4 linked regions of the Homo sapiens genome follow. Changing the gene in region 3 together with the main gene of any one other region gives a genetic interaction. Each region holds a gene or a part of one and is shown on either strand. Other genes may lie near its edges. The genes, in order: SEC24B, TBL1XR1, MTF2 and TRAPPC11.

The links.
Region 1: changes in MTF2 (region 3) and SEC24B together harm fitness more than expected from each alone (negative genetic interaction), as found in Homo sapiens cells (one large-scale study listed by BioGRID).
Region 2: changes in MTF2 (region 3) and TBL1XR1 together harm fitness less than expected from each alone (positive genetic interaction), as found in Homo sapiens cells (one large-scale study listed by BioGRID).
Region 4: changes in MTF2 (region 3) and TRAPPC11 together harm fitness more than expected from each alone (negative genetic interaction), as found in Homo sapiens cells (one large-scale study listed by BioGRID).

Annotation. Positions count from the first base shown.
Region 1 is NC_000004.12:109,519,956-109,525,724, reverse strand, and holds part of SEC24B (protein transport protein Sec24B), read right to left. Parts: intron 5,360-5,769; coding exon 5,241-5,359; intron 4,609-5,240; coding exon 4,553-4,608; intron 4,306-4,552; coding exon 4,099-4,305; intron 908-4,098; coding exon 784-907; intron 380-783; coding exon 221-379; intron 1-220. UniProt on the Homo sapiens protein: Component of the coat protein complex II (COPII) which promotes the formation of transport vesicles from the endoplasmic reticulum (ER).
Region 2 is NC_000003.12:177,050,909-177,056,677, reverse strand, and holds part of TBL1XR1 (F-box-like/WD repeat-containing protein TBL1XR1), read left to right. Parts: intron 1-2,759; coding exon 2,760-2,905; intron 2,906-4,951; coding exon 4,952-5,174; intron 5,175-5,769. UniProt on the Homo sapiens protein: F-box-like protein involved in the recruitment of the ubiquitin/19S proteasome complex to nuclear receptor-regulated transcription units. Plays an essential role in transcription activation mediated by nuclear receptors.
Region 3 is NC_000001.11:93,084,648-93,090,416, reverse strand, and holds part of MTF2 (metal-response element-binding transcription factor 2), read right to left. Parts: intron 1-5,769. UniProt on the Homo sapiens protein: Polycomb group (PcG) protein that specifically binds histone H3 trimethylated at 'Lys-36' (H3K36me3) and recruits the PRC2 complex, thus enhancing PRC2 H3K27me3 methylation activity.
Region 4 is NC_000004.12:183,688,795-183,694,563, reverse strand, and holds part of TRAPPC11 (trafficking protein particle complex subunit 11), read right to left. Parts: intron 3,249-5,769; coding exon 3,093-3,248; intron 1,605-3,092; coding exon 1,417-1,604; intron 976-1,416; coding exon 827-975; intron 648-826; coding exon 526-647; intron 1-525. UniProt on the Homo sapiens protein: Involved in endoplasmic reticulum to Golgi apparatus trafficking at a very early stage.

The sequences.
Region 1 (5,769 bases), on a different chromosome or scaffold from region 3:
TCTTCTGAGTAAATCAAACATTACTTTTGTCTACTTATTCAAGTTATTTTTAAAAATTGGGCAAGGATTATTCAATAACTATTATCTATTTAAAACATGGTATAGCTAATGAGATCAAACAGTCTTCCATCATGAACAGTCAGAGGTAGTCAATACATGGAATGCTCACTGACTTTGATACAAGTATTTAATATAAAATATAACTTTTACAACTTCATACCTTTAGTACACCTTATTCTCATAACAGCTTCAAACCCAATTTTTCTTGTGAGATACCGTTTTAGGTCTTTTTGTAACTTTTCTGCTTGTGAAGGATTGTGAGTATAGTGGAATGATGGATAATAATAGATGCACCCTGCAGAATACTTGGACATGCAAGCTTTAGAGAGAAATACAAAAAGTATTAGCTATAGAAATAATAATATTTTACTTGTCCAACAGTAGTACAGATTCTACATTATGAAGAAATCTAAGTCATGAGAAAACCTAAGCCATCAAAATAAGAACATACAAATCTGAGAAAACAGTAATATCTATAAAATATATGATAAAGTTTACTGTTGAGCAGAATGGTAAGGGAATCATGCTATCTAAACAAAATACAAGTGACATTTTATATTTGTATAGTGCTTTAAACTTTACTGGTAGTTTTCATAGATATTGTCTATCTAATGCACATGCTTTTCTCCCTAAAATATAGAGAATGCTTACTGAAGAGTTTAGATTTAATTATGCATTAAAAATGTTCATTTAAACAAATGTACCCATGATGACTTTCCTTACCTAGAGAAGCAAGATCAGAATACTGTGAACTTAAAAGGAACAAATCCACTGCAGTTTGCTGTCCCGAGCAATCTAATGCAAGTTTCTTATAAAAATCAGTTGCAGGGCCAAGATGTTGTACCACCTAAGTCAACAGATCATATAGTAAGAGCTAGCAATCTTTATGCTCATATTTTCATGTCATTTTTATAACAAAAAGGATATCCTCTGCCTCCCTACCAAACTAAGAGTTTTCTAAATGTCTAGGCATTTGGTGCAGATTCCCTATGATAATAATAATGATAGATAATCTTTATAAAAAACACTTATGTGCCAGCACTGTTTCACACAAATTAATTTTCATAACACATCTCATATGGTTTTTATCATCTACATTTTCAGACGAAGAAACTGAGGCAATAACTGATTAAGTAACTTGACCAAGATTACATAGATATTGAGAAGTGGATATTGGAATATCAACCCAAGAAATCTGGCTGCAGAATGAGTGCTGTTAACCATTATTAAATATTGTTAAATAACTTAAGAGAGTAAAAGATTAAGGAAGGTGTTTCTTTTGGTATGAGAAGACTTGAGCTGAGAAGGTGACACTGGAGAGAGTCTCCAAGTTCTTAATCATCATACAACATTTCCTAAAAAAAAGTTTCAATCCTCTTAATTACACTGTATGATGATTATATTAGAGCTTACTCTAATATAAGGAATTAAGGATATGAAGGAATATGTAAACCAGAACAGATACTGAAACTTTAGAGTCCTAGGCAGACAGATAGAGAATATTTTTGAAAGTTAAATGAGAAAACAAAACAAATCAAAACAAAGCTCTATCAAAGGATTCAGTAAATATATATCAGCTTCCTGTGTTCAAAACACCACAGTAATTTATAATGGATTGTAATGGGTCAACGAACTAAATGCCAGCTACACTTGTTGATGAGTTTAAAATACATACTTATTTTAAAATTAGCTTCCTTCTCAAATGCAATTTTAAAATACAATTTCTATAAAGGGTGAAATATGGTGCCTTTTTTTCTCTAGCATATTGGTGAAGAATAAAAAAAGCAATGCTACTTAATGGTGGTTACAGGATGAGAGTCCTTAAGAAGAGAAGTTGATTAAAAAACCCAAATAAACAAAACATTCTTTATTTAATAACTTAAAGATTATGCCCTTTAACCCAATAATTTCACTTCTAGGAATTTATCCTAAGGCAAATCTGGATATGTGGCTAAAGATTTATGACACTATTAAAACTGTTTAATTCATACTCATAACTACTTATAATGATATTTTCTCAAATATGTTAAGGCCAGACAGAACTTGTACAAAAGAAAAATGAATATTTTTGTTCATTTATTATTTGAAATAGGGCTTAAAAATGCCTGACCAAATCTTCACATAAAACCCAAGTAATGTTCAGCTTCGTATATTCCTTTCATTGTTATTATTATTATTGTTTTTCTTTTTTTTTGAGACCGGGTCTCGCTCTGTTGCCCAGGCTGGAGTGCAGTGGCAGTGATCACAGCTCGCTGCAAACTCTGCCTCCCTGGTTCAAGTGATTCTCCTGCCTCAGCCATCTGAGTAGCTGGGATTACAGGCTTGCATCACCGCACCCAGCTAATTTTTGTATTTTTAGGAGAGATGGGGTTTTGCAATGTTGGCCAGACTGGTCTCAAACTCCTGAACTCAAGTGATCCACCCACCTTTGCCTCCCAAAGTGCCGGGATTATAGGTGTGAGCCACTGCACCCGGCCATTATTGTTATTTTTTAAGATAGGGTCTCGTTACATTGCCCAAGCTGGTTTAGAACTCCTAAGCTCAAATGATCCTCTAGCCTCAGCCTCTTGAGTAGCTAAGGTAACAGGCAGGTGCTACCACACCCAGCCCTTTTTTAAAAAAAAAATAGTGCAAATACAGGTCTGGCTCACATCTGCAATCCCAGCACTTTGCAGGGCTGAGGTAGGGGTATTGCTTGATCTCGGCAGTTTGAGGCCAGCCTGGGCAACACAGCAAGATGTTGTCTCTACTTTTAAAAAACAAAAGAAAAAAATACTGAAGACAACTATTTAATAGCTGAAAAGCAATCAATTGATTACTTTCACATTTACTTTCTCTGTGACTTCAGAGAATGCGCACAATATATTCTCCAATGAAAAAGGTCAAACACACACACATATATATACACACACACACGTATGATGTCCAATTATGCTTATTTGTATGTTTGTATAACTAAATGCTAGTATCGTTAGATTATTGGTGATTTATGCTTTTCTCCACTTTCCAAGTGTTATACAATGATCTGTGTTATCTTCATAATTAAAAAGTTTATTAGTATGAGCATGTTGAATTACAATAGTTACATTTAGTAAGTTTTACCACTTACGTAATAGAAAAGAACACTGGAGTCAGAAAATCAAGTTGCACTTTTACCATTAAATAGTTATTTAACCTTTAACTAGACACTCTACTTCCTCATCTATAAAATGAAAAAGTTAGACTAAATGATTTCTAAATTTCTATGACTTACAAAGTATAAAAAGAACATACTGTGACACAAAACCAAAAAGATAATTTGAGTTAAAAACTCTCGCCGGGCACGGTGGCTCACGCCTGTAATCCCAGCACTTTGGGAGGCTGAAGTGGGCGGATCACGAGGTCAGCAGATTGAGACCATCCTGGTTAACACTGTGAAACCCTGTCTCTACTAAAAACACAAAAAAATTAGCCAGGTGTGGTGGCAGGCGCCTGTAGTCCCAGCTACTAGGGAGGCTGAGGCAGGAGAATGGCGTGAACCCGAAGGCAGAGCTTGCAGTGAGCTGAGAGCGCGCCACTGCACTCCAGCCTGGGCGACAGAGCAAGACTCCGTCTCAAAAAAAAAAAACAAAAACAAAACAAAAAACTCTCAGGCAGCCGGGCGCAGTAGCTCATGCCTGTAATCCCAGCACTTTGGGAGGCTGAGGCAGGCGGATCACCAGGCCAGGAGTTCGAGACCAGCCTGACCAACATGGTGAAACCCCCGTCTCTACTAAAAATACAAAAATTAGCCGGGTGTGGTGGTGCACGCCTGTAATCCCAGCTACTCAGGAGGCTGAAGCAGGAGAATCGCTTGAACCTGGGAAGCAGAGGTTGCAGTGAGACAAGATCGCGCCACTGCGCTCCAGCCTGGGCAACAGTGTGAGACCACGTCTCAAAAAAGAAACAAAAAACAAACAAAAAAACCCAACTCTCTTGCCAGTATTTTATTATTAATGAAATAGAATAAACAAATAATTACACAATCTTGAATATGACAAAAAACTAAACATAAAATACCTTTGTACTTGATCTCTGATTAGGATCTTCTCTGGATTGCAGAAGTCCTGCACCCAAGGAAGGTAACTGTGTCTGAAATACAGACACACGGCCACCTGTTGGAGACATTAATTTAAAGGCAGCCTGAAGTGCAGGACCAAGGGCACTGTGTGTTTCTCTTGTATTGGTGAACATGTTTGGTAATGCATTCAGTAAGTCTTTTATAAGCTGAGAAAACAAAGATCAAAAATTGAATTACTGAGAAGGCAAAGGAATAATCTTATTTTAAAACATTCCATAGTGTATCATGTGTCACTGTATTTCTGGGGACTGGAAACTGAGGAGTCAATAGATATGCCATTTATATTGTCTATTATTTGTAATACTAATATATCAAGTAAACAAATGTTAAATATTTTAGTTACCAGTCACAATATAAATATTTTTATGCTTTAAGAAAATAAATCAATCTTACCTCTTTACTTTCATATAGATTCACAAGTAAACTATCCGGTGTAGGTAGAAAAACATCTATAGGGAAAACACATATTTTAATCAACAAATCGAACAAAAGAATACATTAGAAAATCTTAGTTTTTATCAGGTCATACATGTAATGTGTACTATAATTTTGCTTTATTTTATTTATTTTTTTGAGATGGAGTTTTGCTCTTGTTGCCCAGGCTGGAGTGCAATGGCATGATCTCGGCTCACTGCAACCTCCACCTCCCGGGTTCAAGCGATTCTCCTGCCTCAGCCTCCTGAGTAGCTGGGATTACAGGCATGCGCCACAACGCCTAGCTAATTTTGCATTTTTAGCAGAGACGGGGTTTCTCCATGTTAGTTAGGCTGGTCTCGAACTCCTGACCTCAGGTGATCCACCCACCTCAGCCTCCCAAAGTGCTGGTATTACAGGCTTCAGCCACTGCGCCCAGCTAATATTGCTTTATTAAATATACACACTCTGTATATATTATACATACATGTGTGTAATACATAGGCATAACTTAGAATCAAGTATTTCCAGAAAAACAATTATTTTGAACAAATACTAAAGTGCATGACATTATCCTCACAGCATATAGCAAGGTGTATATTAAAATAAAGTAGCCCCCATTTCAAAGTCCGTAGTTAGAAAGGCTTTTATTTTACTGACTGCTTACCATCTATATCAGACACAATCAACATTTGAGGCTGTGATAATCCTTCTTGTAAATTGTAGAAATGAATAGTGCTATCAAAGGTCATGAATCCTATTCTTGTTCGTGAATCTCCAGGAAGCCTAAAGATAAAAATGACAATTTTAAATTCAGAGTGCTCAGTAACATATTTCATTTCAGAAAATAATGAAATAGTAATTTAAGTCCAAGGATAATTACACATATGCTTTTCTACAGGGGACAGAAAAATTATCCCTATCTAAACAAATATATATCAGAGAAGAAGACCAAGGTGAAAACTTACTTCCAGTTCCAATATTAGAACAATAGTATATCTTGCTTAAGCATTTTAAGGGCAGAATGACAAATAAGTACTTTCCAAGAAAAGATTGAATATACTGCAAATCAGATTTTAATGTGTAAAATTTTACACAAAAACCACATTTATGAACACTGAAACATTTTATCTATCATTAATCTTTTAAAATGCTGTTAGAGCTGTTTTCAAAAGTCGATGCTACAATACAAAGAA
Region 2 (5,769 bases), on a different chromosome or scaffold from region 3:
GGAGGGGAAGAAGAAAATTGATTTTGAACATAGTAATTTTAAACTGCTATGTAATGCCATGGCTAGAAATAAAGAAAATATTCTAGTTGAATTCAACATTTAAGCAGAGCATTTAAGTTTGGAACTTCTCTAGGGTAAACATTAGTGAGAAGTGCCAAAACAATGCTAATGACTACTTCAGGGATGTTTCATTGCTATTTGAGAGCATCCTAAGTACATCTGCAGTACCTTGAGATGCATGTAAGCACCTGTGATAGTTTTTCTCCTGGTCTGACAGAACAAATTCAGGATATCTGCAACATTCCAGCCAGAAATTGGCACAGTTCCACCTGCAAGTCTTAGACTATTCTTGGACATATTATTACTTTAAACTTAAACTCTATAAGCTAATTAAATAGGGTCCAAATTTAACAATTTTGACTATTTAAATTGCAGTCATGAATAAAGTATACAGAAATCATGTACTTCAAACAAATTTATAAGCATTACATAAGTCAAGACACTTTCAAAACCTTGGCAGTAAATATGGCAATAAGATGGCTCAGTGTTTCATGCACTGTGCAACCACTTTCCAGGACCCTGAGATGAAAACAAAACAGTGATGTAGTCTTTTACTTTCTATCAGGAAACAGGAGCTCACTCTCTCCCTTAGCTTTATCCTTGACCATATTTTAACTGTTCAAGAGGAGTAGTAGAGTCTCTGAATGAATTTGAATCTGTACTTTCTCATTTATTAGTTGTGATTTTCCATTAGATTATAAAATAATAAAATTATATGTGTGTACACAGTATCTAGCATATGGTATAGGCCCTCTGTAAATGATGTCTTCTGTCTTGAAGTTTTCTTAAATCTCTTAAGCTGCTTGGCGTTTGGCTGTTTTTACTATGGATGATTTACTGTGAATTTATTCAGGGAGGGGTTATATAATTGAAAACAGGAATCTCCAACCTCACTGCTTAAGGATTTTACTGCTATGTCTCTCATTGTTTCTCCCCATCCTCCCTCATCCTTATTCTGTTTTCTGCCTTGGTGATCTGGAATCTACTCATATTCAGATAGTTGTGGGCTTCCTGATAGGGACAATTCAAAACGGTGCTTCTCCGCCCCCACCCCCCCACCCCCGCCCCGCCCCCCGATTGGTATCTCTGTGAGCCCAGATTAAGGTGAAAACTATGAAAACTATAAATGCATTTAATTATGATCTTGCTTATGGGCAAAATCAGGGGCTAAAATCAAGGTTTTAGAGGTAACATTTTTCCACTTGCCTTTTCCACTGTGGGTTAGATGTTGTGAGCATAATGAGTTAGGTGTTCCAAAGAGAGAAGGAAGGGGTTACAAGGAAAATCAACTTAGGTGTACTCTGACTATCAAATAACCAAATTTTCCTAGCCACATGCTAGGAAATTGTGAGCCCACAGTATTTTCTACTAGACTGTTTATAAGTACCACAAGGAGTATAAGAGTGGAAGCACAAAATCCAAAAAAGACATTACTAAACACTAAAAAACTAGGCTAGACAGGCTAGCCAACAGACATACTATATAGATTAAATCAGTTTAACCAAGACCCAAAATAAGCCTGTATTTATTTCCTTTGTTTAGTATAAATGTTTATTAATATTCTATATTACTTGTACAATTTAATTGAATTGTTTAAAATACTTCATAGAAATTACTACTTAATGATAAATGGTGATTAATATTTCAGTAAAGAAAATAACCACCCTTGGTTTATCAGCTTCTTAGAATTTTACCTTTGAATTTTGACTAGATATTAATAAAAAGCAAGGCCAACATAAAGAGATTTTTATTAAGTAAGTGCTTTGGTTTTAAGTATTTCAAGTTAAGAGTAAGTAATTGCTGATGGAGACCTATAAACCAGGTAATCATTTGCTAGCTGTTCATTTCTTAAATATTTCATATAGATGAGTTATTACTAAGTGGCAAAGAATTGGTATTTTTAAAGCACTTAATTCATACATAAAATGAGATTTAACCGTTATGATTTTTTAATATTTGAATTTATTTTTATTATTTTAGTTTTCCTAAGTAGTTCCAAAGAGCTCCAAAATACTGAATTTATCAGATGTTTGACAATTTATATGTAGAAATTTAAATACTTCAGATTTTACCTGAGTGCTAGATTGCTTTACAGACATTATTGAATTATAACTACGTAGTAGATAACAATTACATGAAGTAAATGAAGATCATTCAGAATGAATGAATTCCTATTTAAAGCATATTATGTGTACCACTTTTGAGAGATGCTGAATACTTGAACTGGGCTGGGATGAAAGAAAATTTGAAATAAAGTTCCTTAATTCTAGATGTAAAAAATATTAAAATATAATACAGAAATATTAAATGTCCCTTAATCTGTCTTGGCCTGATTTAAATGAAGCAATTTAATTATATGATTTCCAAAGACTTGTTTTACCTTTTACATTTGATGCTTTTTGTTAAGAAAAGTTGTGTACCATGACATTTTAGAAAATTTGAAGCTATATAATCAAGTATTTACTAGAAATTTTAAAGAGTACATTAAGAGAAAAAGAAAGTATGTAAAGGCTGACATGTTTACATGCACACACACGCGCGCGCACACACACACACACACACACACACACACGACCTTCGTCTGGGATTTTAAATGGGTAGGATGGGATTTGAAAAGATGATGGTGATCTTTCTTTCTGTGTCATTTAGCATGTTGCCACTAGGAAAATAAATTCTCATGCCTTTTCTTTTGTTTTTAGGATTTTCTCATTCAGCATTTACCTTTGGTATAGAAAGCCATATCAGTCAGTCCAATATAAATGGTGCCCTCGTCCCACCCGCTGCATTGATTTCTATCATCCAGAAAGGTCTACAGTATGTAGAAGCAGAAGTTAGTATTAATGAGGTAAGGAAGACTTATTTCAAATACTGATTTTTTTCATCTTAAATATGCCGTTAAGTCAGCTGTCTTGCTTGCTTATTCAGTATTCTGACTTTAGCTTCACAGGGTTAACAAAAGTGCAGGCAGTTCATCCCTAATGTGGTAGTCAGGTTGCACCGGCAAGGTGTTGGCGCCTAGTTGTAAGGACCATTATCTGTAGTTTGTTTGCCTTAATCTGTTTGTGTAAGTAAACACTAATAAAGAATTTTTATTAACACAACAGCATTGTGCTGTGGAATGCTAAGATCATAATTATTGGCCTGAAAATTGTAAATTCTCACGTTATTTGAATATACCCAAATTTAAACCAGTTTGTAATTGAAGCCAACTCTGGATGGTACTGCCTATCTAAGGACTACATGTGAGTAGTTTGTTTGGCTTAGGGGTCAGCATACTGTGGCCCATTAGCCAAATGCTCCTCCCTGTTTTTCTCAATAAAGTTTGATTGGAACATAGCCACATGCATTTACATATTGTCCATGGCTACTTATGGCATAATAGTAGTTGAGACAGAGACCTTATGGCCTGCAGAGCCTAAATTAATATTTACTGTCTACTCTTTTACAGAAAAAGGTTGTAAACCCCGGTCTAGTTTAAAATGTTGTTTTTGTTTTTTGTTTTGTTTTGTTTTGTGTGTGACGGAATCTCGCTCTGTTGCCCAGGCTGGAGTGTGGTGGCACAATCTCAGCTCACTGCAACCTCCGCCTCCTGGGTTCAAGCGATTGTCCTGCCTCTGCCTCCTTAGCAGCTGGGATTATAGGCACCCACCACCATGCCCAGCTAATTTTTGAATTTTTGTAGAGACAGGGTTTCCCCATGTTGGCCAGGCTGGTCTTGACTCCTGACCTCAGGTAATCTGCCCACCTCGGCCTCCCAAAGTGCTGGAATTACAGGCATGAGCCACCACGCCCAGCCTAGTTTAAAATTTTTATCTATAGTGAGGAGCTTTTCCCATTACTTCTATTTCAGAGATTAACATGTTCCCCTTTTGCGAGTATTTTTAAACTGAAGTATCTATGATTTCTGTATCAATGATTATTACTAGAATTAGAAATTACATAATATACTAAAATGGATTTGTTTGTTTCCTCAGCTCTTTGAGTGACCATCCAGTAACGCAAAACTAAATTTTTTCTTAAAATGTGTGTAAATTTGACATGGCGCTTATTCCACAGTGTATCTGTGTTGGGTTTAGTATCTTAAAAATTATTTATAAGTTAAAATACTTTCTCCTGTTCCTGAAATATTACATTACAATGGACAGTTTAGAAAGACAGGCTGTGTTTTTGCAGCTCACAGTACCCTGCAATAACACTGTAGATTGTCACTGGTACATGTTTACCAGTTTAAGTGAACCAGACTTCACATATGCATGTTCCCAGCTAATTTGTACTGTTTGTATTTCTGACTTGTTCTGTGTTTGTGTCTCTTCTTGTGCTTACTTGGAGAACTCTTTATTAGGAACTTCCTAATATCAATAAGTAGAGCTTTGGAAATTTTAATAACTCCCTAATATTCAAGAGCACTATAGCCCCATGAAGTCTGTTTCTGCTTTAATATTTGAATCAAATCACAAGAAACTCTTCAGCTCAAAGTTTTTAGTTTTTTAAAAGATGTATTTACTATAATGGGGCACCAGGCCTCTGATCATTATATGAACTATATTCCATATTGTTTGTTGCTTTGACTAACAGAATTTCAGAATCTAATTAATAAGCCTTTTTATCAGCTCGGCCTACATCTTATTATCTCTTTCATTTCAGCTCTATCTGTACAGCTCTATACTGTAATAATAGTATGAATTAAATGAAAAGGAAAATGTAAGCAGTCATTTCCAGTTGCTGCTTGTAGTTTCTTTATTCCCTCCGGACTTCTTATATGAATTCAGAAAGTTCCTAAAAATGTTTTTTTAGGAACGAAGATTTTCATTTCATTTCTGATTTTGTATAAATACAAATAACTTTAAATATTGCCTTTGATTTTTCTTCTCTCACAATTTTCCAAATCCAGGATGGTACCTTGTTTGATGGTCGACCAATAGAGTCTCTGTCCCTGATAGATGCCGTAATGCCTGATGTAGTACAAACAAGACAACAAGCTTATAGAGATAAGCTTGCACAGCAACAGGCAGCAGCTGCTGCAGCTGCCGCAGCTGCAGCCAGCCAACAAGGATCTGCAAAAAATGGAGAAAACACAGCAAATGGGGAGGAGAATGGAGCACATACTATAGCAAGTGAGCTCAGACAAGAATTTTTTTTTAATTACATGGTTTATTTATTTATTTTTTTAAACTTTTAATTCGGGGTACATGTGCAGGTTTGTTATATAGATGAACTCATATCACAGGGGTTTGTTGTACAGACTATTTCATCACCCAGGTACTAAGCCTAGTGCCCAATAGTTATTTTTTCTGATCCTCCTCTTCCTCCCACCCTCCACCCCCCAGGAAGGTCCCAGGAGACAAGAATTTTTAAAAATTTTTTCTCAGAAGAAATGCCCCATCTTCTATGCTGAAATAATTTCATCTGTTAACTTGCACCAACTTGTTTCCCTAACTTGTATCACACAGTTCAATTCAGATTTTTATTCCTAAAGCTCCAAAAAGCTAGATTTACTTTTATTTTCTTTTTAAAATATCTAGAAACCCTTTTCCCATTGTTAAATGAATTTTTACATCTACATTTGATTTCTAAATAAAATTTGTAATACTAGTTATCAACAAATAACCATAGAGCTCTGACATCGAGATAAAAGGCAACTCATGTTATATGAATGATATCAGCAACCCCTACTGGCAGAAACTCAGAATAGTACTGATAGACATTATA
Region 3 (5,769 bases):
AAATTGGCCAGGCGCAGTGGCTCACGCCTGTAATCCCAACACTTTGGGAGGTCAAGGCAGGCAGATCACCTGAGGTCAGGAATTCAAGACCCGCCTGGCCAGCATGGAGAAATCCCCATCTCTACTAAAAATACAAAAATTGGCCAGGCATGGTGGCTCACACCTGTAATCCCAGCACTTTGGGAGGCTGAGGCGGGTGGATCACGAGGTCAGGAGATGGAGACCATCCTGTCTAACACGGTGAAACCCCGTCTCTACTAAAAATACAAAAAATTAGCCGGGCGTGATGGCGGGTGCCTGTAGTCCCAGCTACTCAGGAGGCTGAGGCAGGAGAATGACGTGAACTCGGGAGGCGGAGCTTGCAGTGAGCCGAGATCGTGCTACCGCGCTCCAGCCCGGGGGACAGAGCGAGACTCCATCTCAAAAAAGAAAAAAAATTAGCCAGGTGTGGTGGTGCACACCTGAGATCCCAGCTACTCTGGAAGCTGAGGTTGCAGTGAGCAAAGATTGCGCCACTGCACTCCAGCCTCGGTGACAGAGTGAGACTCTGTCTCAAAAAAAAAAAAAGGAAAATCAAGCTATTAATACTGGGGAGGCTGAGACAGGAACATCCCTTGAGGCTGGGAGTTCAAGACCAGCCTGGGCAACATAACGAGATCCCCATACACAGACACAATCTCTAAAACAATGAAAATATTAAGCCAGGCATAGCGGTGAGAGCATGTAGTCCCAACTACCTGGGAGGCTGAAGTGTGAAGATATCCTGGGCCCAGGAGTTCAAACGCTACCGTGATACAGTGAAGTACGAGAGCTGTGATTGTACCACTGCACTCTTGAGAGGCTCCATCTTTCTTTTTTTTTAAAGGCAGAATCAAACAATTTTCTAGAAATTTACAATCTAATAACTCCATGTAAACAAGTGGAATTTGCATTTTGAATTACAATTGAAAGTAAACATTTTGCTCATCACTGGAACTCTAAAACTTTTCAAGGTATGGCATAAAGTAGGGACTTAAAAATCTCTCTTGAATAAACTAATCAAAGTCTGTATTTATCAATACACACACTAGTAAGTAAATCCTCCATTTATCAAGCAAATATCACTATCCTATAAAAGCACATATTCTATTACAGAGACCCAAATTTATTTATGTATTTATCTAGAATTAAAAAGCCAAAAAAGCTCTTACAAATTTTACTTAATTTCACCTCACTTGAAAATTGCAACTAAAAGCAGAGGCAAATTCTCCTCCCCAACCTCAAGTTCAGCCTGAGCCCCCTAGAATTAAAAATAGCTTAACCACCTAACAGGTTAGAGAATGAACAGAGGTGTTTACAATGTCAGTGACTGTGGCTTTAGTACTCTTCATGAAATTACAGAAAATATTTTTAAATATCTTAAAATGTACGATAAAAAGTCAGTTTTATAGAACATCTTTGTATGTTTGTGTTTCTACCAAAAGCATGTATTTTTGTGATCACAAAAAAACTTTTATAAACTATAAAAAATACAGATCTTAAGATTTTTTTAAAAATTGTAAATGAGGTTGGGCATGGTGGTTCATGCCTGTAATCCCAGCACTCCACTCTGGTAGGCTGAGGCAGGCAGATCACTTGAGGTCAGGAGTTCCATACCAGCCTGGCCAACGTGGTGAAACACCATCTCTACCAAAAAACACAAAAATTAGCCAGGCACGTTGGCACACAGCTGTAATCCCAGCTACTTGGGTGGCTGAAGCATGAGAATTGCTTGAACCCAGGAGGCAGAGGTTGCAGTGAGCCGAGATCGCACCACTGCATTCCCGCCTGGGCAAGAAAGTGAGATTCTGTCTCAAAAAAAAATTGTAAATGACACTGTTAAATATAATATATCAAGTATTTTCAAAATGGTAAATACCAAACATTTAGAAACAGTAATAGATTTCAAAAATATATCTGATTTTTTTAAAAGCCAATATGACAACTGGTAAAATCTTTACATCACAATACCCATAGCCATCTAAATTATTTGTGCAAAAGGAATCCTTGATTATATTATCTCACATATACAATGAATAATAAAGAAAGGTTAACTACAGACTTAAAACACCAAAACCAACAAGGCCACTAATATACATTAAAACCACAGATAAATGTGAATTAAGTACAGGTACATACATTCATGTTCAAGTCCAGAATTTATAAAGTTGATTACACTACATAAAATGAGCCTCCACTAACAATTCAGGCAAGGATGAACTGGAAAGTTCAGCGTTGTCATTATAATCCTGCAGACTCTGGTCCTAAGACCAACGAGAAAAAAATAAGAGAACTGAGGGGCTCTTGCTGCAAGCCACTAACTATACCCTAGAGTTTTAAAAGTTCCAATTACTATAAACAAAAGTATGAACTGGATCTTTGGTAGGTAGTAGAGCATATGGATGATAAGGGCTTGAAAATATCTTCATCTTGCTATACTGCTTAACTTTCTCAAAAGCATTCATATCTCATTTTCTCCTCCTAATAATGCCATAGAATAGGAAGGGAAGACTACTGTTTAACAAGTGAAAAATCTGGAACTCAGAAGTAAAATTACTTCCTTAAAGTTGTAAAGAAAGATAGGTAATACCTGGCTCTACTATGGTAAACCCCAGTTAAGTGATACTATTTCTGAGACAAAGTTATTCTAGATATTTGTCACCTTTGGATCCCAATTATGAACCGAGGTCACATACAGTGGGGAAGGCCAAGAATATTTTCAGATTTAGCAACTGGTGAATGAAATCAGGCCATTCACTGCCAGTATCGACAGTATCCAGCCTCTTGTCCACAGTATATTTTGCCATTAAGGCTTTTTTTTTTTTTTGAGACAGAGTCTCACTCTGTTGCCCAGGCTGCCATGCAATGGTACCATCTCCGCTCACTGCAACCTCTGCCTCCTGGGTTCAAGCAATTCTCCTGCCTCAGCCTCCTGAGTAGCTGGGATTACAGGTGCGTGCCACCACGCCTGGCTAATTTTTGCATTTTTAGTAGAGATGGGGTTTTACCGTGTTGGTCACGCTGGTTTTGAACTCCCGACCTCAGGTGATCCACCCACCTCGGCCTCCCAAAGTGCTGGGATTACAGGCGTGAGCCACCACACCCAGCCTTAAGGCCTTTTTTATAAGTCTAACTGAAGTCATCTATCAGTGATGAAATGATGCATTCCTACAGATGGTTCAACTTGGTTGTTAAGTGTCCTCAGATACTAATACAAGTTGAGCATCCCTAACCTGAAAGTCCAAAATCTGAAATGCTTCAAAATCTGAAACTTTCTAAGCATCAACCACACATGAAAAATTCCACATCTGACCTCGTAACAGGTTGTAGTCAAAACGCAGGTGGCACAACACAGTTTATTCAGTGTCCCGAACGAAAAAATAAGCTTTAGACTAAGCATACAACGTGTGTATGAAACATAAATGAATTTTGTGTTTAAACTTGGGTCTCATCCCCAAGACATCTCATTTGTATATGCAAATAAGCCTAAAATCCTAAAACCCTTCTGGTCCCAAGCATTTCAAATAAGGGATATTCAACCTGTAGCTGTCTGCCCAATTTTGAAACAACAAGAAAAAGTTCAAAGACAGCTGCCTGTAGTATACATTTTCAAAGCTCTGTATTTATCACATAGATAAATACAAAAGGACTTTATAAATAGTTCTTCAAACACCAACAAAACTGGGAAACTAACATAATTACTAGGCTGAAAAAGCTACAAGTCAAATATGATATATTAGTTTTCTTCTCCCACAGGAATATGTCTTTGCATCTCAAGATTCACCCGGGGCTGCCTATCAATTATTCACAAACCAAGATCTTTTCCACCCAAGGCATTCATACATATTGTACCTACTACCAAAATTGCCCTTCTTCCTCATCTTTTTTTTTTTTTTTTTTTTGAGACAGTCTCGCTCTGTCACCCAGGATGGAGTGCAGTGGTGCAATCTCAGCTCACTGCAGCCCCCGCCTCCTGGGTTCAAGTGAACCTCAGCCTCCTGAGTAGCTGAGATTACAGACATGTGCCACCACACCTGGCTAAATTTTTTGTATTTTTAGTAGAGACAGGGTTTCACTATGTTGGCCCAGCTGGTCTCAAACTCCTGGCCTCAAGCGATCCGCCCGCCTCAGCCTCTCAAAGTGCTAGGATTACAGGCGTGAGCCAATGCACCCGGCCTCCTCCTTCATTATTTACATAGTTGATCCTTCCTTCTAAGCATAGTCATGTGCTACACAGTAAAACTTTGGTCAACGACAGATTACATATACAGCAGTGGTCCCATAAGATTATAATGGAGCTGAAAAATTCATATTACCCAGTGACTTTGTAACCACTGTAATGCAATGCTTTACAATGTGTTTGCAGTGATGTTGGTATAAAACAAACCTACTGCACTGCCAGTAGCATAAAGTCTTGCACATATACTCATTATGTACAATACATAATACTGATAACAAACGACTGTGTTACTGGTTTATGTATATGCTATTTAGTTGTCCCTTGGTATCCACAAGGCACTGGTCACAGAACCTCCTGAGGATACCAAAATCCACAGATACTCAAGTTCTGCAGTGTGACCCATAGAACCTATGGATGCTAAAAGTTGGCCCTGGCTGGGCCCAAGTGGCATGCCTGTAATCCCAGCACCTAAGGAGGCCAAGGCAGGAGGATTGTTTGAGGCCAGGAGTTCAAGAATAGCATGGGCAACATACCAAGACCCCGTTTCTACAGAATATTTTAAAAATTAGCCAGGTGTGGTGGCATGCACTTGTAGTCCTAGCTACTCAGGAGGCTGAGGTGGAAGGATCACTTGAGCCCGGGAGTTTGAGGGTACAGTGAGCTATGATCACGCCACTGCACTCCAGCCTGGGCAACAGAGAGACCCTGTCTCTTTTAATGAAGAAAAAAAAAAAAAAAAAAAGGCCGGGTGCAGTGGCTCACGCCTGTAATCCCAGCACTTTGGGAAGCCACGAAGGGCGCATCATGAGGTCAGGAGATCGAGACCATCCTGGCCAACATGGTGAAACCCCGTCTCTACTAAAAAATACAAAAAAATTAGCCGGGCATGGTGGTGGGCATCTGTAGTCCCAGCTATTCATGAGGCTGAGGCAGGAGAATGACATGAACCTGGGAGGCGGAGCTTGCACTGAGCCGAGATGGTGCCACTGCACTCCAGCCTGGACTCCGTTTCAAAAAAAAAAAAAGAAAGAAAGAAAAGAAAAAAGGTAATGTAATTAGGATCCATAACTATACTATAATGACAATGCTTTGAAATTTTAAAAGTATTTTTAGTACTAGATAAGCACTTCACAAACTACCCTTCTATCTCCCTGATTATGGGAGAATTCTTTAACTACTATCAAAAAATCCTCAGAACTGAGAATCAACAGAGGGGCTCAAGTACTGATAAGAACTTTAAATTAAATGAGGATAGGAGAAAGTGATGCTTTATCTTATCAAGGAAAATGGTTTACTTTGTTTCTATATGTTCAAAGTATTTCTTTTAATACTTACATTTTTAAAGACAGGGCCTTGCTCTGTCACCCAGGCTGGAGTGCAGTGGCACATCATAGCTCTCATAGTTCACTGAAGTCTCAAACTCCTAAGCTCAAGCAATCCTCCTACCCAATCCTCCTGCCTCAGCCTCCTGAGTAGCTGGGACCACCGTGCCTGGCTCAGGAATAAATTTAACAGAAGAAGTTCGAGAATTGTACAATGAAAACTACATAATATCAGAGAAAGAAATTAAA
Region 4 (5,769 bases), on a different chromosome or scaffold from region 3:
ACATTTCTTCTTGATATATATTCTAGGATAATGTTCCCACCTTCTAGAGTTTATTTATACCAACTGGCTAAATTCTTTATCACTTTTACAGAATGTTACAATGTAACTCATCAATGCTCCCACTGTAGTAGAGTACTCTGATTACACTGTGGCCACAGTATAAGGGTGGGATCATTACTACTGCATCTTTTAGAAATTATTGTTCTTTAACTTCCAAAATATTTTTCTATCTAGTTTGGAAGCAGAAGTTGACTGAGAAGTTAACTGCACTAAGTTACAAACAATGGGTATTTTATTAGCCCACTAATTCATGTTAAGCATGTTTTCTAAATTCCCTTGTAGAAAAACTGCTTAAGACATTTTACACATTTACGTATGTAAAATGTGTATGAAATGTTCATTAGTTAAATCACTTTTTCAGTCCTAGAATATGCGTTAAAACGCTCTGAACTGTTAAAAACTCACTATATATTTAAAACTACAAACTAATTGATTTCCTCTTCAATCCCAGTTGACCAAGTTTACCTGTTCCCCTGGATGTAAGTCTCCAACAGGAATGTCAGTGAGTAAAGCCGGGTAGGATTCATCACACAGTTCTGTTCCATGAAGAGTCACGTGAGTCTTCTGAGTTAAATTGGCATCCTGTCCTAAAAGAGTTAATATTGGTTCTTCAAAACAAAGAATTCAAACATTATCCCAATAATCAATACTGTGTGAAGAGCACTATGCCATACCCTCTTGTAAACAAAAGTCCTAGAGTTGACATCACTGATGCTTATTTAATGTTGGATTAATACTGATCAAACTTACAAAAAGGAATGCTTACCTGGTTTTAAGCCAGCGGTGAGCTTCACATCTCTGATTTGGGTCTTTTCATGGGACTGAACAGTCACAACCAAACAATACATTTCATTAGTCAGTGCAGGGGGTTCATGTAGCAGATGTACAGAAATGTTTGGGACTCTGGATATGATCCTTTGAAAAGAAACCTTAGCTAAGTAACTGATCAAAAAAAAAGCAAATAAATTATTCAAATAAAGTATTTAAAAGAAATAAGAGGCTGGGTGCAGAGGCTCAGGCCTGTAATCCCAGCATTTTGGGAGACTGAGGCAGGAGGATCGCTTGAGCCCAGGAGTTTGAAACAAGGCTGGGCAGCATAGTAAGACCCTCATCTCTAGAAAAAATACAAAAATTAGTCAGGCATGGTGGCACCTGGCTGTAGTCCCAACTACTGGGGAAGGCAAGGGTAGCGCCTGAGGTGGGAGGATGGTTTGAGCTCAGGTGGTCAAGGCTACAGTGAGTCGTGATCACACCACTGCACTCCAGCCTGGACAAGAGAGAGACTCTGTCTCCAAAAAAAATAGCAAAAGAAATAAGAGGATGACCTTTAATATCAGCTTAGCAAAGCAGACTTACATTGTGCTTGCCTGAATTATAATGCTGTCCCAGTGAACTTCATTGTCAGGTAGCTTAGGTCGCCTTTTGAAAGACCGAGCTGCCTGTAAGGCTTCTTGGGAGGAAGCAGCATCTCCTCCTCCTCCCTGCCAATTTAAAACCACACATCTTCCCGTCTCATTGCCCAGAGCAAGATCCACTGAAGTAATCTAAAAAGAAAAAAAAGGATGTTGGAAATGTCATCTCATATGTGCTTGTCACCATCTCCTCTCACCAAAATTACATCGTCGACTGCTAAGACCATGGAGTTCATCTAGAGACCCCCAGTGTGACAGAAGTGAGAACACCTGCTATTAGAGGTCTTACTCGGGCTGGGACAGAGACTAACTGCGCTCTGGGTTCCAACTTCTTCACCTTTAAAACAGAGACACTAACCTGACTTTCTGTTGACAGGCTGATTGCACAGTAGTGTTATGATTTTAACATCTGGCATAGTCCCTGATGTAATGAAGGTTCAATTAGTGGTTGCTGAATGAAATAAGTATTGTGATGGCTATGGATACATTATAACCTCATTTCCGACTCCACAAATATTTTTCTCAAAAATATTTACAGTATTAGCAATAAAATGCTTTATTAATTGAATACATGATCTATTCAACTAAAACCATTAACAAAAGGACTCAAAATAGAATTACTAATTATTATTTATGTCTGGTAGGTTCCCTTAGGTACCATGAAAAAATAAAATATGCAATTAGGGCATTTAGTCAAAATCATGAAAGTTTTTTTTTTTTTAATGAATAAGCAAATAATAAAAGCAACATGTTCACAGAAACTGTTATGGGAACACTGGTTGTATAACTTTATATGCCATTTATCTTAGCAATGGTCCCAAGTTTAGATGAGCTAACCATTCCCATTCAAGTCATGAAAAACAAGCACTTAATGAATGCTTACTGTGTGCTAATCACTATTCCAAGCAAGTTACATTAACTAGCTGATTTAATCCTCATGAAATCCTAAGAGATTAGTACTCTTATGATCCCCATTTTACAGATGAATACACTGAGACACAAAGAAGCTAAGTAACTGCCCAGGGCCACAAGCTAATAAGCTAGAGAGCTGTAATTTAAACCCATACAGTTTGGCTCCAGAGTTTATGCTCAATAAAGATATTACTTAGATCCTATATTTCTAAAAGGCATTTCAATTATCTATACTATATCAATCTTTACAAATATATATGTTCATTTTTCTTTAAAAATATGTACTCAGTAATGCTTAAACATCAAAAGATATTCAGTCTGAATAACATAAAAAATATATTTGCTATATTACATAATATACATTATTTAAAACTCCTTAACTGATTATGTGGTCATTAAAAAACAAGATTGGTTTATATACTAACAAGAAATAATATCTAATATACACTATTAAATGACAAAAGCCAGCTACAGTTTATTATGTACAGTATATTCTCAATTTTTTAATTGCAAAAAATTTTAAACTACAAGTATGTTCACAGAAAAATGTCTGAAGGAAACTTCCCAAACTATTATGAATGGTTTCCTTTAGGAAGTCCAAGTAGCAGATTTTCATTTTTTACTTAATCAACTTTTGTATTATTTAAAATATTGATATAAACATACTTTTATTATTAAAAATATTTTAAAACAAATTTCATAACTAACCTCAATTTTCTTTCCCACATCTTCAGTTTTTGCAACAAACTTAAATAACAGTTTTCTTGTTTTGCCAGGAACTAGGCACATCTTTCCTTGAGTCAGATTTTCTAAAACTTCATTTGCTTTGGATGCTTCTTCTATTACACAGAACTGGTTGTATTCCTGAAAAAGGTGAACAGGGGTCATCAAATGTCAGATGTCTGCTAACCCTAAATGCCAAGTGCTTTGGAGCTCATTTAGTATAACTCCACAAACACTGAAGCATTATGAAGGGTTACTAATAAAAGGAAGTATTTTTTATGCCAAATAGAGGCATTTATCCACTTACTGCTGCCATAATATAACAGTTCACTACACATAAACTGTTTTCTGAAAATATTTAGCTATCCCTCTCCCAGAGAAACAGTTTGTTCTTTGTTGCACTGGACACTACTGTTTATCACCTCCTTTTCTTGAAGAGCCTTTTTTTACTTGGCTTCTGTGATGCTATAATCTTTCCTGTTTCTCATCCTGCTTGGTTACTTCCTGTTTTTCCTACCTGGAGTGCAGTGGCATGATCTCGGCTCACTGTAGCCTCAACCTTTTGGACCCAAGGGATAGTCCCACCTCAGCCTCCAAAGTAGCTGGGACCATAGGCATGTACGATCACACTAGACTAATTTTTCTATTTTTTGTAGAGATGGGGTCTCACTACGTTGCCCAAGCTGGTTTCAAACTTCCTGGGCTCAAGTGATCCTCCTGCCTCAGCCTTCAAAAGTGTTGGGATTACAGGTGTGAGCCACCAAGCCCAGCCCCATTCCTTTGCTTTCTTTCAGGTCTTCATTTCTCTCTCTGTTCACTTCATTGGAAATGTATTTGTTTCCACGTTCACCATACCATTGTTGCTAGTATCTCTCACATACAGTTGTCCTATTCTGTCTTATTTCCTTAATTACAAGCTTATATCCACAACTGTCTAGAGGACAAGTCCACTACCACTGAAACTCAGCACGTCCCAAAGTGAATGTGCATCTGCCTTCCCAGAAGAGAACAATCCTCATAGATGAGTAAAGGAAGACAGCTTTCATGTTTCTATCTATGGAATCACTATTCTCATCTGTTCAATAAATATCAAGACCTTTCCAAGAGCCATCTTCTATTCCAGCATATAAATTACCTTCATAGAAATTCTTACACAGTTCAAGTATTATACTTTCCCGCCAATTTTCATTTCTATTCCATGCTTATAAAAACTACTCTACTTTTTTTTTTCTTATGGTTTATATTGTGAATTTCTTTTCTTTTAAGACGGAGTCTCACTCCATCGCCCACTAGAAATGCAATTTCAGCTCACTACAACCTCCGCCTCTCAGGTTCAAGCAATTCTCATGCCTCAGCCTCCCAAGTAGCTGAGACTACAGGCACCCGCCACCACGCTCAGCTAATTTTTGGGTTTTTAGTAGAGATGGGGTTTCACCATGTTGGCCAGGCTGGTCTTGAACTCCTGACCTCCAGTGATCCGCCCACCTTGGCCTCCCAAAGTGCTGGGATTACAGGCGTGAGCCACTGCGCCCCGCCTGTATCTTAAATTTCAAATAAGATATATTCAGAATATAATCTAAATTTTAAAACTAATTGCTTTATATTCCATTTTAGCGTTATTAGTTTTTAATTATAGTAGCTTATATTTTTTGTTGAAAAAAAAAAGGAAAGAAAAGAAATGAAATAGTAGGCTATTAAGGGAAAAGTAAAATAAGAGTCCCCATACTTCACTTGAGCCCAGGAGTTTGAGGCTGAGATGAGTTATGATCACATCACTGCACTCCAGCCTGGGCAACAAAGTATCTCTTTAAAAAAAAAAAAAAAAGAGTCCTTGTGTTGACCCTCTAATTTCATAATGAACAAAACAAACAAACAAAAAAAACCCCTGCCCTTCTGCCCTTGTGGAGCTTAGATTCCAGTAAGGAAAAACAGGTAATTTACCAAATAATCACACAGACAACGGTGAAACCACAGTGTGATTAGTACTACCAAGGCTATGAGAGCCTGGCTAAGTGATTCAGTCATGTAAGTCAGGGGAGGCTTCCCTGAAGAAGTGATGCTTTTAAGTGAGAAAAGGCAAGAAGGAATGAAGTAGTCGGAGAGGAGGGCAAACCAATTCAAGCAGAGGAAAGGGCATGTACAAAACCTCCTGTCCTTCATTCATCCTATCCCCACTTTTCAGCCGCTATATGCACTTGGCAATCCAGATTTATCTATTTTTAAATGCCTCTTATATCCCTGAATCTCCATTCCCAACACCAGCAACTCAATTCCGATACTTGTACTTTTGTACATGGATTAATATAAAGAGCCTCTAATTGGCTTCCATGATATTATTTCTATTTTGCTACTAGAATAAAGTTTCTTAAAACTTTAAGAATAAATTGCATGCTCTTGCTTTAAAATTCTCAAACTGGGCCAGGCATGATGGCTCACACCTGTAATCCCAGCACTTTGGGAGGCTGAGGTGGGTGGGCTCCTTGAGCCCAGCAGTTCAAGACCAGCCTGAGCAACACTCCATCTCTATAAAAAAATACAAAAATTAGCTGGGCATGGTGGCATGTGCCTGTAGTCCCAGCTACTCAGAGGAGGCTGAGGTGGGAGGATCACTTGAGCCTGGGAGACTAAGGCTGCAGTAACTCAAGATGGTGCCACTGCACTC